2 separate regions of the Homo sapiens genome follow, and region 1 is linked to region 2. The links come from fine-mapping of genetic effects on gene expression. A gene starts in region 2. The other region holds a variant in brackets. All regions are shown on one strand. Distances are between the middles of the regions.

The links. PIP is the estimated chance that this variant, and not a neighbour inherited with it, causes the effect. A credible set is the group of variants that fine-mapping cannot tell apart.
Region 1: its variant is the best candidate, but not a certain one, in a credible set for the expression of VPS53-AS1 in whole blood (INTERVAL, PIP 0.56).

Annotation. Positions count from the first base shown.
Region 1 is chr17:543,417-551,416 of GRCh38, forward strand. The region is part of intron 17 of VPS53 (VPS53 subunit of GARP complex); the gene reads right to left. VPS53-AS1 (VPS53 antisense RNA 1) reads left to right here. Exons shown (of 3, transcript XR_007065570.1): 3 at 6,220-7,937. Among named protein-coding and RNA genes, the nearest start is that of VPS53-AS1, 25 kb to the left of the region's middle. The variant C/T (reference allele first, on the strand shown) is at 4,733.
Region 2 is chr17:519,189-527,188 of GRCh38, forward strand. VPS53-AS1 (VPS53 antisense RNA 1) reads left to right here and starts at 3,549. Exons shown (of 3, transcript XR_007065570.1): 1 at 3,549-4,241. It overlaps VPS53 (VPS53 subunit of GARP complex), which reads right to left. Exons shown (of 22, transcript NM_001128159.3): 20 at 2,413-2,550; 21 at 638-742; 22 at 1-110. RefSeq lists an enhancer at 1,293-1,794.

The sequences.
Region 1 (8,000 bases), 24 kb after region 2:
CAGTTTCTGTTTTTTCCTAAAACTACCATTAATAGGCAAAACACTAGGTGTGTTTGCTTCTGAACAGAGACTTGGATTTATTTACCTGAGTGATGTGAGCAGCCCTAGGAAAAGGCACGGAGAGAGGCGGGGACCATGAGACCAACAGCCCCTGCTAGGGAGCCCACGGCTCTCTATCCTACGTACAGGGGCATAACCAGACATACTCATTTCTAAGGATTTGTAGGATTTAAATCTAAAAGATAGAATCCTTTGTATTTCCACCAAAACACTCCAAATAACTACTTTTTCCAGAATCAGGAGAACTAGTTTTACTTCTAGCTTCACTATTATAAGTTATATGGCTTTGGGCATAATATGAAGAAGAGAAGGAAGGAAGGAAGGAAGGAAGGAAGGAAGGGAGGGAGGGAGGGAGGGAGGGAGGGAGGGAGGGAAGGAGGGAAGGAGGGAGGGAAGGAGGGGAGTTTGGAGGGAGGGAAGGGAGTCTGGAGGGAGGGGAGGGGACAGGGGAAGGGAGGGAGAGAGGAAAGAAGGAAGGAAGGGAGAGTGGGAGGAAGGGAGGAACGGAGAGAGGGAGGAAGGGAGGGAGGGAGGGAGTGAGGAAGGCAGGGAGGGAGGGAGGGAGGAAGGGAGGAAGGAAGGAAAGAAGATACCAGAAGGAAAGTTCATTAGTTTTCAGGGAAAAATATTCAACGCAGATTGGAATATGTGGGTTGGCTGTTCAACACATCTTCTCCACTGTAGAAAAGTCCTGGTGTCAGATCAAGAAAAGCTGGAGATGAATATACACCATGATGATGGTGAATGCTTGAAGAACTCATAATCATATCAGCATGAACACTCGTGTGGACCCACCAGGACTGGGCACATGCTGACAGAAATGTATCAACTAATTGAAATTATGGTGATTTAAATTTTATTCCTTTTTTCAAAAACATCTGGTCGGGCACGATGGCAACATGCTTGCAATCCCAGCAGTTTAGGAGGCCGAGGCTCTTCCACTTTTAGGCAGGTTACTTAAGCTGATTTTGCCTCAGTTGCCACATTTGCCAAAAAGACTTACTCACTCTCTCTGTATGGCATGCCACAATCCTGCATAAAGAGGCACTGTGGTGGCGTGATCACAGCTCACTGCAACCTCTGCCTCTCAGGCTCAAGTGACCTTCCCACCTTAGCCTCCCAAGTAGCTAAAAGATCTGGAGCAGGTGATTTAATGTCTCTGTTTCAGCTTCTTTATCTGTGAAAAGGGGAAATAGCATAGCCATCTGATGAATTTATTGTTAGAATGAAATTAATTGGGTTCCAATTCCTGGTAAGTGCTCAGTAAATAGTAACTTATTATCAACTCATACAGGTTATCTAAGAAAATAAGCAATATGGAGGCCAGGCACAGTGGCTCACACCTGTAATTCCAGCATTTTGGGAGGCCGAGGTGGGAGGATCACTAGAGCTCAGGAGTTTGAGACTGGCCTGGGCAACATAGCAAGACCTCATCTCTACTAAAAATCAAGAAAATTAGCCAGGTGTGGTGGTGTGCGCCAGTAGTACCAGCTATTTGGGAGGCTAGGGTGAGAGGATCACTGGAACCCAGGAGGTCAAGGCTGCAGTAAGCTATGATTATGCCACCGCACCCAAGCCTGGGCAACAGAGTGAAGAAATTTTTTTATGAAAGAAAGAAAATAACACTATGGGAAGGAAACGTGGTCTAGAAGTTAATTTTGCTGTAACTCATCAGCAACACTACTGGAATCTCAAAGTCAGAGTTTCAGAGGGACCACCTGACTTTCATCACATTTTCCTCCCCCTTCTTCGGCCTGGCCTGCAGAAGGCTGCACCTGCATGTGAATCTAGCAAACTACCGCTCTGCATTTCCCTCTCCTTGTCTAGCAGCAGGACTCAGGGCCACACCCCCGCGGGCTCGTATTCCTTCATTCCCACATCTCTTCAATCGGCTCCAGGATGCCACCTGCTGAAGTCAGAAGCCCTTCTGCTATCAGGTGCCATTGAGGAGCATCACTCCATCCTCAACAGCACCAGCTATGGACCTAAAGGTTTCAGGGATTCTATGACCCCACCGTCTCTCACAAAGTTGTCCAAGTTTCCTACTCTACATCTACCAGCTCCACCTGGCTACCTCTGCTCAGTAGAGTTATCTATGTCTCACTTGTTTACCAATCTTTGGTCAAAAGTGTGTTTGTGGTCCTTTGGTTCTTTCTCTCCCACTCCCTGGCTCCCTCTTTACCTTCAAAGTCATTCAGGGAATACTACAGTTAAGCAAGTACTGTGCCATGCCACGGGTTTCCAAAATGAATAAGACACAGCCCTCAAGTTGTTCAAAGTTTAATAGGGAAGACAAAGACATAAAAATGATTACATAACAAAGCAGAAAGGTAGTCTAGGTACTATGGTGTCTTGAAAGAGAAATAAATATGCTCTGGCTGAGGCAAGAAATGCTGACATTGTAAGGGACCTAGAAGAGCCAAAACAGTGTTGAAAAAGAACAAAGTTGGAAGACTCATACTTCTTGATTTCAAAGATTACTACAAAGCTATTATAGCCAAACAGTGTGGTACTGGCCTGAGGGTGGACATACAGATAGATGGAATAGAACTGAGAGTCCAGAAATAATCCCACACATCTATGGTTAACTGATTTTTTACGAGGGTATCAAGATCATCCAATGTGAAAAGAATAGTCGTTTCAACAAATAGTGCTGGGAAAGCTGAGTATCCTTTCAGCAAAAGAATGCTGCTGAATCTTTGCCTCACACCATATGCAAAAATTAACTCGAAATGGATTGAAGACCTACATTTTTTTCCTTTTTTTCTTTTTTGTGAAGACCTAAATTTCTTAGAAGAAACCACAGAGTAAATCTTTATGATTCTGGATCAGGCAATGGTATCTTAGATATCTCACACACACACACACACACACACACACACACACACACACACACACACGATATACCAACTTCAGAAAATCAAGGACATTATCAAGAAAGTGAAAAGGCAACCCACCCACAGAATGGGAGAGAATATTTACAAATTTCATATCTGATAAGGGGTCTAGTATCCAGATATAAAAAGAACTTTTACAATTCAACAACAGAAAGACAACCCAATTTTAAAATGGGCAAAACATTTAATTCTCATTTCTTCAAAGAGAATATACAAATCGCCAGTAGCATCTGAGAAGGTGATCAACATATTAGTCATGCAAGGAATGCAAACTGTAATCACAATGAGATACCACTTCACACCCACGAAAATGGCTATAATTAAAAAAGGAAAACAAGTGTGGGAGAAGATGTGGAGAAACTGGATTCCTTACACTTTGCTGTGGAAAGGTACAACGGCACAGTCACTTCAGAAAACAGTGTGGCACTTTCTCAAAATGTTAAACATAAATTGACCATACGGCTCTTTCAGTTCCATTCCTTAGGTCCCTTAGATCCTTTTTTTTTTTTTTTTTTTTTTGAGACAGAGTCTCCCTCTGTCACCCAGGCTGGAGTGCAGTGGTGCAATCTTGGCTCACTGCAATCTCCACCTCCCAGGTTCAAGCCATTCTCCTGTCTCAGCCTCCCAAGTAGCTGGGATTACAGGCACGCACGCTACCACACCCGGCTAATTTTTGTATTTTTATTAGAGACAGGGTTTCGCCATGTTGGCCAGGCTGGTCTTGAACTCCTGACCTCAGGTGATCTGCCCACCTCGGCCTCCCAACGTGCTGGGATTACGGGCATGAGCCACCACGCCTGGCCTTTAGGTACATATTGAAGAGAACTGAAAACATGTTCACACGAAAAATTGTACATGAATGTTCACAGCATTATTCAAAATTAGAAAGTAGAAATAACTCAAACGTCCAATAGACGAATGAATAAACAAAATGTGGTCTATCCATATGATGGAATGTTACTCAGCCACAAAAAGGAATGGAGTGCTGACACATGCCCCACCATGCACATGCCCTGAAAACACTACGCTAAGTGAAGAAAGCCAAGCACAAGATGTCCCACATGCCATATGATTCTAGGTATGCAAAATGTCAGGAGGGGCAAATCTATAGAGACAGAAAGTAGGCTAATGGTTGTCAGGGGAATGTAGAATGACTGCTGAGAGGTACGGGGTTTCTTTTTGGGGTAATGAAGATGTTCTGGAATTAGATGGTGGTGGTGGTTTCATGACATTGTGGATATACTAAAAACAACTAAATTGTACACTTTATTTATTTATTTATAAAATAGAGTCTCACTCTGTCACCCAGGCTGGAGTGCAGTGCTGCAATCTTGGCTCACTACAACCTCGGCCTCCCAGGTTCAAGAGATTCTCCTACCTCAGCCTCCTGAGTAGCTGGGACTATAGGTGTGTGCCATCATGTCCAGCAAATTTTTTGTGTTTTTAATAGAGACAGGGTCCCACCATGCTGGCCTCGAACTCCTAACCTCAGATGATTTGCACTCCTCAGCCTCCCAAAGGAGTGAGCCACTGCTCCTGGCCAACTGTATACTTTAAAAGGGTGAATTCTGTGGTATATGAATTATACCTCAGGTTTTTAAATGGGGACAGACATTTGAACTTGATCTTAAAGGACGTGCTCCTTGGGCAGACGATAGCAGGAAGAAAATTCTGGGCAGAAAGAATAAAATGAGAAAAGGCATGGAAGCCGCAAAAGAGCAATATGCATTCAGGGAAGTAAACATGGCTGCGACTGGAGAACAGGGCACATACTC[C/T]GGAGTGAGCGGCAGAAACTGACCTAGCAGTGGAGTAAAGAGATAGATAATGAAAGCTCTATATGCCAACCAAGGAAGAGGCCATGGGATGCCTTCCATGAGAATGAGGTCTCCCAGGAAAATGACTTAACCAAGTTGCCAGGCTCAATCCCTCTTGTCAAGGAAGTCTCCTTCCGTCAACTCAGAATCATCCAATGACTACACTCCACTTTGGCCAGCCAACAGTCCTTCTGGAATCATCCAATGACTACACTCCACTTTGGCCAGCCAACAGTCCTTCTGGAAATATCCAACGACTACACTCCACTTTGGCCAGCCAACAGTCCTTCTGGAATCATCCAACAACTACACTCCACTTTGGCCAGCCAACAGTCCTTCTGGAATCATCCAACGACTACACTCCACTTTGGCCAGCCAACAGTCCTTCTGGAAATATCCAACGACTACACTCCACTTTGGCCAGCCAACAGTCCTTCTGACATTTATAAGATACACTTATTTACAGTATTGGTTGTTCTCAGTTTTCTTCCCAGCAGGGTATAGACTCCTTGAGGACAGTCTCGTTTCCAATCTTAACTCTGTCAGTCCAAGTACAGGAGTAGCCTGAGGAGCCCCTGGGATGTTGAATGAGATTGGCAGTTTGAACCAAGCTCTTTAGCTTCCCTAACCTCTCTTTACTCATGTTTTCACCCTGTTTGAACTGCCCTACTAATCACAAACTCATTCAGAATTTCGCCCTCATCTGTTTCAAACACCACTTCCTTACGAGGGCCTTCTTTGCCTCCCCACCTGGATATGAACTCCTCCCTCTTTAAAAAGGGTGTATTTTGTACTTTTCTTATGGCACTGATTTCCTCATCTCTTATATTAAAGTTACTGGGTATTGCTGTCATCTTACACATCTCTTGCCCTCAGCTACTGGAATCTAAACACCTTAGCCAAGGGTTTATGCCTTTCTGAGCCTTGCAGCTCCCAGCACTGTGCTGGGCAGGGTCTGAACTGAACTGTTTAACCAGCAGCAAAAATGATAGAATCAGAGACAGAAATAACCATTATCACAAAAGTTTTTTTAAATCCTAGAAGAAACTACACAAAACAGGATGCAGGCATCAAGAACACAGAATGTGTGTTGAATCAATTTGTGACCACTTGGCTTGTTTATTTCCATCACATGGATTTTATTTTGCTAGAACTCCAGAAGACTCAGACAAAAAGTAATGGCCTCCCAGCTGCTGCGTTCCCAAGTCTGTGGTTTTCCTATGATATAAACAAAGGACTCTGGAGGCACGGTCTCTGTTCGTATTTGCTGGTGTGGGCACGGGGCAGAAGTGGAGGGTGGGACGGGGCAGGGTTTGAGGGAAATCCACCGAACGAACCGACAGTTCGTATAAGCAACACTTGCAGTGTTAAACCCCTTCCAACCGTGATTTTATTGAAAAAAAAAAATCCCACTCTTCCTTTGGTGAATGTGAAAATTCTTTCGGCAGCTGCATTCCGATCTGAAGTGTGTGGCAGTTCAGGAGAGATGGCAGCTGGCACAGATCCCACTCAGGATGTAGAGAATGCTTACCAGCAGCGAGGGGATCATGAGAGCTGGCAAAACGAATCCTCTAAGCAGATGGACTGGCCTCACTTTGCCTGCTCAGAGTGTTCTCCTGTGAATGCTGAGAATACTGGAAGTACCCATCAGCACCGGACTGCTGAAAAGATCAGCTTTTTGAATAAAACTGTGACATCAGCTATTTTAGGACTTGCCACTTCAGTTCATAAAACCCTAAAGCCTACATTTTGGTTTTAATCTTATTTTTGTTAAATATTTACAATCTACTGCAAAACCAAATTCAGACCAAATGTCTGCTTACACAACCTTGTGACATGGTCATTCCTCCTGACAAGAGGGAGAGGGAACTAACATTTAATGAGCATTTACTATGTGCCTGGCACTAGACCCGCCCGTTCCATGTTTCATCCTCACAGCAATGCTGGGAGGCAGAGATCCACAGTTCACTTGGGGTATGTGGGCCCAGATGATGTCACGTTGGCCCAGACAGGTGAATCATTTGCTCAACACCCCAAAGGAAACCCTGGAGGAGTTAGGTCTGTCTGACTCTAAAGTTAGTGTTCCTCCCACTGCCCTCTGGTACTGGCCAGTATAACCTAGATAAATTGTTTCTCCAGAATTTGCTACAAGAGCCTATGACTCTAGAGCAGACATTGGCAAACTTTTTCTGTAAAGGGCCAGACAGTAAATATTTAATTTTTTTAGCTTTGTGGGCTAGTCTCTGTTGCAATGGCTCAATTCTACCACTATATTGCAAAAAGGCAGCCATAGATAATACATAAATAAAGGAACATGGCTGTATTCCAATAAAACTTTATTTTCAAATACAAGCAGTGGGCCAGATCTGGTTCCCAGGCTCTAGTTTGCCAACCCCTGCTCTACAAAGTTCTAGAGTTGCAGCTGCATGTTACTTGGGTTTAGCATAACAAAGGCCCATTTCCAACTTAATTAACAAAAATGAATCTCCCATATTCAAGACTACAAGAGAGATAAAAGAGGGGGTGAAAGACATGGTCTGTGCACTTACGGAATTGACATTCATTTGGGAAAAAAAGGCATAGGCACATAAAAGTCAAAAATAGGAAGATGAGGTAGCGCTCAGTAAGTGCCAAAGGAGGAGACTTGAGGGCCAAGGGCTGACTGATGGGCCACCACGATATTAGAAAACCAGAGTTCACAACCTGATCAAATACTCTTACATTGGCACCAGAGCTCAGAAGGAGTTGGAAAAACCTCTCAGTGGGCAAGAATGAAGAATGAGTCAGAAGTTACTACTTTAAGCACTAATGAAAACACCCATTCTGGTGAGACCACACCAAGGTTTTTAGCATGTGTCAGATACTAATCAAAGATAATACGTAAATAAAGGACATGGCTGATTGGTTTTTAATTAACAAAAATGAATCTCCCATATTCAAGACTACATGAGAGATAAAAGAGGGGTGAAAGACATGGTCTGTGCACTTACGGAATTGACATTCATTTGGGAAAAAAAGGCATAGGCACATAAAAGCCAAAAATAGGAACATGAGAGGAACATGAGGTAGCGCTCAGTAATTAAAAATGATCCATCTCAGCTGGGCACTGTGGCTCATGCCTGTAATCCCAGCACTTGGGGAGGACTCGGTGGGAAGACTGCTTGACGCCAGGAGTTCAGGACCAGCCTGGGCAACATAGCAAGACTCTTAGCTCTACAAAAAATTTAAA
Region 2 (8,000 bases):
GTTGGCGCCGTCAGGGACAGTGAGCCGGAGCTTTCTGCCCCCGAGGGCGGTGCGGGGAGCCGCTGGCGCAGGAGTTCCAGCATGCTGCTCTGCTCACTCCTCTTCAGCCCCTGAGGTTGAGAGAGAAACAGAACCGTCACGAAGTCTGGGCCAGAATGGCCCACGGGGGACAGCGCAGTATCTGGATATGGGGTCAGCAGAGGCTCTGGAGACAGCATAGTTACTCCAGGCTGAGGATGAACCGTTTCCTCAAGGGACTCACCATCCCCTGGGTAGTAGCGTGGGAGGAAAAGAGAGGGGAAGAAAAGGTAAAGGAAGGGAAAGAAGCGGCTGACAGAGGAGAAAGGACAGGTCAAGAAGGTGGGAAGGACAACATGCCTGTCCTCATCCCCCTGCCCCTGCCCCATCCTCCCTGTGCAGGTGGTCTCAGCGGGGCATGCAGGGCCTGTCAGAATCCTGAAGTGCACGTGCCCGGGGCCATCCTCCTCCAGAGGCTTCTCTGAATCCGGTTTGCTCTGTGGAGCCAGGCACATGCATTTTGAGAAAGCCCCCCCGGAACTTATATCCCAATTCCCGGTTAAGAACCGCTGAGTGTGAGGGGGATGAGCAGGTGTGGACCAAATGTCCCGGCACAAACCTTCATGTCCAGTATCTTCTGAAAGGTTTCTGTGTTGCAGTCTGTGAGAAGTTTGATGTAGTTGTCAACAAACACCACCAACGGTTCATGAGGGGCCATCACTACCTACAGCGGGAGGAGACAGGAGCAAGCCCCTCAGGAAAACTACCACCACGGGAGGAGACAGGAGCGGGCCCTCAAGAAAACTCACTACCCACCGCAGGAGGAGACGGGAGCGGGCCCTTCAGGAAAACTCACTCCTCACTTGCCCGCCGAGCGCTAAATGGATTCTGAGAGGTTTCCTTAAGCAGCAGCAACCCAGACTAGAAACGCCCCAGTGGCCCATCTCATCTTCACATGCCACTACAGCAATGTCCTAAATTTGCTGAATCCTAAATACACCTGCGCTGCTGTTTGAAGTATGGGTTTCCGGGGCCCTCCTCTAAAGACTCTAATTCAGTAGGCCTGGCTGGAGTCCCAGGTGACTTTTAAACTATCAGGACCATCCGGGAAACCCTGCGTGAGAGGGTCTCCTGTTCCAGGCATTTCACCAGTACACGGTACTTGCTCCTTCTGCCTTGACGTACTATGATTCCTGAGAAATGGGTGGCAAAAGGAGCTGGTATAAGTAAGTGGATTTCTGCAAAAACAAAAATGCCAAAGCTGCCTCACCTTTTGGAGACTTAAAATCTGTAACTTCATGTAACGACTAACTTAAACTATCAATTAACATACAAACAAAGGAAAGGAACGGCACTGCAACCCTTATTCATTTCCGTTTTGTTCTGGAATGCAGTATCTGATTTTCTTTCCCCAGCCGACTGATTTGTTTTGAATTCCTGAGACTGAAGGGAAGAGTGGCGAGGAGGAGTTCACTCAGGCATCCTCTGCCGATAATTCCCAGACCACAGGCTCTCCTCCCCAGCAGTAAGCAGCAGGGAAAGAACATGATGAGGCAGCTTCACCCTCACCTACATGAGCTCTTCACCCTCACCTACATGAGCTGCTTCACCCTCACCTACATGAGCTGCTTCACCCTCACCTACATGAGCTCTTCACCCTCACCTACATGAGCTCTTCACCCTTACCTACATGAGCTGCTTCATCCTCACCCACATCCCACCGGTGTCTGAGGCCCTGCTGCCACTTCCTACTCCTGCCGTCCCTGAGTCATCTGGTTTAGGAAGTGGCCTGAAGAGCCTACAGGTCCTGGGCTTTTAAGACCACATCACCACAGGACCATCTGTTCTCCAGCCCTCATCCCTACTCTTCAAAATAGCTGGAAACCAGAGGCAGATGCGCAGGGCTTCAGACGTTCCTCACTCGAAGTACAGTCTTGTTAAATGGGGCTTTAAAATATCCATTTGCTGATTAGATTCAGTTACTACAACATCTGTTCAGAGTTCATTTAAAGTGGCAGAGTACAGAAAGCCAAAAAGGCTGATGTGGAAGGGAGTAACTGAGAGCTGTGCCTGAAATTCCTGCTGAGAAGCGGAGATCCCTGACATACACTGATTCACAGTGGCAACCACCTAACCTCCAAGCTTGACCACATTTGATCACAAGAGAATCCCACGCCAACAAGAAATTCATTTGTCAGAAGGAATTACTGAGCCCTAATAACTATCCACAGACTTTCAACAATATCTGATGAGGCCAAAATCCAGTCCAGCCCAAGAATGTGGACCATGCTTTGAGGCCGGTGAGGATAGGACCTACCCTGTGCTTTCAAAACCAAGGCTTCTCAGAAAAAGAGATTAAATAAATAACTGGCCCCTTTTAACACAAGCCATCACCTTGAGGATCATCTCAGCCCGGGTCATGCCTTTGACAACGATCTTGGTGTAGCTGGCGGGTGCCTTCCTCACCACCTGCGAGCTGATGGAGGGGAGATCGAGCAGGACCATCTTCAGCGAGTGGGTGTCCAGCAGCAGCTGTGGAGCAAAGCAGAGAGCATTACCGGCCCCTTCCAGCGACCCAGTGCCGAGTGGACTCATGCCGATGAGTCATGTTTTTCTCGTTATACACGTAACACATTCTTGTTGCAAAAAATTGGGGAAATAAACAGAAATATAAAAGAAAAAAATTATGTATAATTCCCATCACCTAGGAGAAACAACATCAAGGAGCCAGCCTATGTGTACGTATATAAAAAACTAAATCAGGGGGCCAGGAGCCGTGGCTCACACCTGTAATCCCAGCACTTCAGGAGGGCCAGGCAGCAGGATCGCTTGAGCTCAGGAATTTGAGACCAGCCTGGGCAACATGGCAAAACCCCGCCTCTACAAAAAATGCAAAAATTAGCCAGGCGTGGGGGTGCGCATCTGTGGTCCCAGCTACTGAGGAAGACTGAGGTGGGTGGATCGCTTAAGCCTGGGAGGTTGAGGCTGCAGTGACTCAAGATTGTGCCACTGTAACTCTCCAGCCTGGGTGACAGAGGGAGACCCTGCCTCAGTAACAAACCACAACTCCTCCATAAAACTAAATCAGAATCATACTGTATGTATATTCAATTTTATAACCTGGTTTTCTCACTTAATATACACAATTTTTATATTCTATTTTCCCATCTTTGCAGTCTTTAAAAAACAAATCAAGGTTTTTAAGTGCACTCTAGCCTGGGCCTCATGGCGAGACCCCATCTCTAAAGAAGAATCGTGATTTAATGGCTGTGCAGTACTCTGTGATGTGTGTGGTTGTGTAAACTTTAAGATCTTTCCAATGGAATGGACCCATTTACACCTCTGCCAGCCATGCAGACTGCACCCTTATCAGCACTGAAAACTCATCAAATCCTGATTATTCATTAGGCAAAAAATAGTAACTCATTATTGTTTTACTTTGAATTTCTCTGGATGTTACTGAGGATGTAGGAGATTTACCCAAATGTAAACATTGTATCCTGGCAACAATCTACCTTTTCCTCTTTGTTTGTTCTGGTTCTCTGGGATGCCAATTATCTAGAAGGACACCCATAGTCCTAAAGGCTCACTGACTGCCGGGAATGACATGAGGAACGTTTTGTCACATTTAATCTGAGTAAAGCCTTACCTACCCTGGATGTTATTTATTGTTCCCATTTTACAGATGAGAAAAAGTTCCAGAGGATTAACAGCTCACCAAACTCATCTCATGCAACGGACGGGGTTAGACAAAAGTTGGACGGGAAGCTGGAATTCATTTCCGGTTGCCAGGTAACGGGGTTAGAGAAAAGGTGGACTGGAAGCTGGAATTCCATTTCCGGTTGCCCAGGTAACGGGGTTAGACAAAAGGTGGAAGGGAAGCTGGAATTCCATTTCCGGTTGCCCAGGTAAATGTCCCTGGGTGGTTTTGGTGACGAGCTCACACTGACTCCTGCTGACTGCCCTGCTCTGCTGCCGCCGCTGCTCTTGGCAACCAGGGAGCAGAGAAATGGCTGAAGACAGAAGGGTGTACTCTGGCCTGTTGAGATGGCTTAGGAGAATGGAACCACATGGTCACCAAGCAGACAACGGCAGCAGTGGGGTGACAGCTCCCAATGCCACCACTCAACTCCGGTGATAACGGCCAAACTTATATTCAGGGCAAGGCCTGTACTCTCTGCCACTGCCTGCTTCTTTGGGAAAGCCTTCTGTAATCCTATCAGGTAGGTGAGAAATGGGACCCTTCAGGCCCTGCGACACTTTGCATCCTCCAATTTCCTATTTACTTTGCTTTGGACAGAAGAATTAATGATTAAAGAGAAACTAAGTAACGACAGATACTATGAACTTAAGGGTTATGGCAATTGTAATTTTAACAATGGTAGAAACATGGGGAAGACGTCAGTGTTTTATGTGGAATAATTTAGGTGTGGTAAGGAATTACACTAAGGTCAGAGCAATTTCATGCAGCTAGTCAAAGGCCTGCACCACGCAGGTCATTCAACTGTAGCCAGCAAAGTGCAGGGCATTTTGGACCTTTCTGGATTTCTAGAGATAGAAATTCTTACTATCCTAGTGTCTGCTTTGTTGAAAAGGCCAAGGGCTCAGAGAAAAGGGTATGCAAACCTCCAGGAGGGGGAATGGCACTGATTGCTCAAGGCCCACGTGAAGAGCCTGGCGTTAGCGCACTTTCCAGAATTCCAGTGGAAATGACTGCTGCTTTTCCTCGGAGGAACCCAGAACAAGCCTCTAAAGCATTCTAGGTGGATTAAATTCTTAGATATAAAAAAGAAAAACTTTAAGAAGAAAATACAGGGCGCAGTGGCTCATGCCTGTAATCCCAGCATTTTGGGAGGCCGAGGCGGGTGGATCATCTGAGGTCAGGAGTTCGAGACCAGCCTGGCCAACATGGAGAAACCCCATCTCTACTAAAAATACAAAAATTAGCCGGGTGTGGTGGCGCATGCCTGTAATCCCAGCTACTCGGGAGGCTGAGGCAGGAGAATTGCTTGAACCTGGGAGGTTTGCGCTACAGCCTGGGTGACAGAACAAGACACTGTCTCAAAAAAATAAATACATAAAAAATAAAAAATAAAAAAGAAGAAGAAGAAGAAAATACAGAGATTATTTTCATTGCTTATGGGTGGAGAAGAATGTCAAACATCAGAAAGAATGAACCACCTACCCTAAAATGAAAGGCATCTATATCAGAAGAAACAAACAAAGTAAAAGACAAGACATAAATCAGGAGAAGATACGTGCAACGTTGACAAGGGAACGGGGTTCCGAACATGAAGATTCCTACACATCAACAGGAAAAGCACAAACTATCCCAACAGCGACACAACAACAGGCAAACAATACTAACACCGGATTCACAAAAGAGGAAACTCAAATGCCCGAAAGGCATATGAAATGACACGCAACCTGGTTAGTAACTGGGAAATGCAAATTAAAACCACAGATGTACACCATAATACATCCATCAGAGTCAGAAGTAAACAGATTATTTGATAATCAAGTGTGGGCACGGCCATGGCACTGAAATTCACAAATGTACACCGTAATACACCCATCAGAGTCAGAAGTAAACAGGTTGATAATCTAGTGTGGGCACGGCCACACTGAAATTCAGACTAGTGGTGACAGTAGAAGTTAGTTCAAGCACGTTGGGGGAAATTTAGCAACATTTCCTTAGCTGGAGATGTGTATCACCCATAACACAGCATTAATACTTATATCCATTAGAGGAATTCTTGCCCATGTAAAAACGTTCCCTGCATCCGCTATTTATAAAAGCAAAAGTTTGGAAACAACCTACACGTCCATTGACAGTGGAATGAATAAACAAATGACAGCACATTCGTGCAATGGAATATGCTGCTGAGGTGAAAATGAATGGGTGCACACAGCATGCATTAACATGCATAAATCTCAGAAAATAGTAAGTTGGGCAAAAAAAAGCAAGTGGGGAAATGATATGTCTAATGCCATTTATATAGTTTTAAAATATGCAAAACAAAATCATATATCATTTGTGAATATATACACATATATCAAAACACATATGAGAATAAAATCAAAATCAGGACAGTGTTTACTTTGGGGCATGGAGGAAGAGATGGGCAGGGTGGGGTTCATGGGGGCGGTCTTCAGCAATAACTGTAATGATTTACTTTACATAAAAATGATCTAAAGCAGGCAGGGTGTGGCAGCTCATGCCTGTAATCCCAGCATTTTGGGAGGCTGAGGCAGAAGGATCACTTGAGGCTACGAATTCAAGATTACCCTGGGCAACACAGTGAGACCTTGTCTCTACAAAAACAAAAATAATAAGATTAGACAGGCACAGTGGCACACACTTGTAGTCTCAGCTACTTAGGAGGCTGAGGTGGGAAGATGGCTTAAGCCCAGGAATTCCAGGTTGCAGTGAGCTATGATGGCACCATTGCACCCCAGCCTGGGAGACAGAGTGGGACCCTGTCTCTTAAGAAAAGAAAAAAAAAATGGGCCAGGCGCGGTGTCTCATGCCTGCAATCCCAGAACTTTGGGAGGCTGAGGTGGGAGGATCACTTAAGGTCAGGAATTTGAGACCAGCCTGGCCAACATGGTGAGACCCCATCTCTACTAAAATACAAAAATTAGCCAGATATGGTGGTGCACACCTGTAATCCCAGCTACTCGGGAGGCTGAGGCAGGAGAATTGCTTGAACTCGGGAGGTGAAGGTTGCAGTGAGCCGAGATCGCGCCATTGTACTCCAGACTGGGCAACACGGTGAGACATTTTCTCAAAAAAAAAAAAAAAAAAAAAAAAGATGTAAAGTAAATGTGGAAACATGTTACATATTTTGCTGAGCTGAGTAGTTAGTTACTGTTTTTTACATTATTTTCTGTACATTAATTAACTGGAATTTTTGTTTAAAGACTACCATTCAGGACTCAACTCTGTCTTCCATGTAGCAAATTTTGAGAGCCTTGTCAAAATCAAAGCCATGTCTTAGCATTCATTTGTTGGTAGGAAAAAAAAAATCAGTCATTATATTTTAAAGCATATGGAGATATTTCCTACTTTTCTACTTCCCAGAGATACATTATATGCATAAATAATTGTACAGTCTTAAATGACAGGAAGGGTTTGAATGCACCAGGCATAATTCTCTAGTGTCCCTCATATACAGGGAGATATGACACTTTCATTCCCTGGCCAGTCACCATAAAATTCTGTCTTTACCAGACACTGAGAGGTGAAAACCCTGGTCTCAGGTTTTATACATAAAGCAAGGCAGTCAGAAAAGGCGGGAATGAGCCTGACAGATTTGGCGGCTGTCTGTGCAAAGACAAGACAGAAAGGTCCCATTTATCATGAAAATCTGCTAGTTTTCAACTTTGAAATAGTTGATAATTCATCTTCTTAGGCATGAGACATTGGGCAAGGGGTGGCTATTGCCACATTCATTTCTGCCTCAGCGATAATTTCTGGGGCAGTGTGGGCTGGCTAATGTTGTTGATGGGATGTGGGGGTGCAAGGGTGGCCAGTATGCCATGCCTGTGAAGGCTGATCACCCAGCAATGGAAATCTTTGAGAGGGGCCCTTTACTTCCCGAGGAGCCTCCTACAATTCTTGGGGACATGATGACTATCAACAGTGATGAAAATTTTGCGTAAATAAGATACAGGCCCACACTCCTAGAAGACAAAGAACCATGTGAACAAAACCACATAGGTGAACCATATTGGTCCCACCATAGAAAATTCTTCAATGAGGTGGCACAGGGGAGACAGCTCAGGCTATCAGGAGGGATGGAACAAGGTGGACACATGTTCTATTTCTTTTTCTTTTTAAAAAAATTAGGTATAACTTTCACAGAGTACACAAACACCACGTATGCCATTTGATCAACATCCAGACATGTGCACATCCTGCTGCCTAACGGAAGACAGAGCACACTTCTGGCATCCCTGAAGCCTTCCTCATGCTCTCG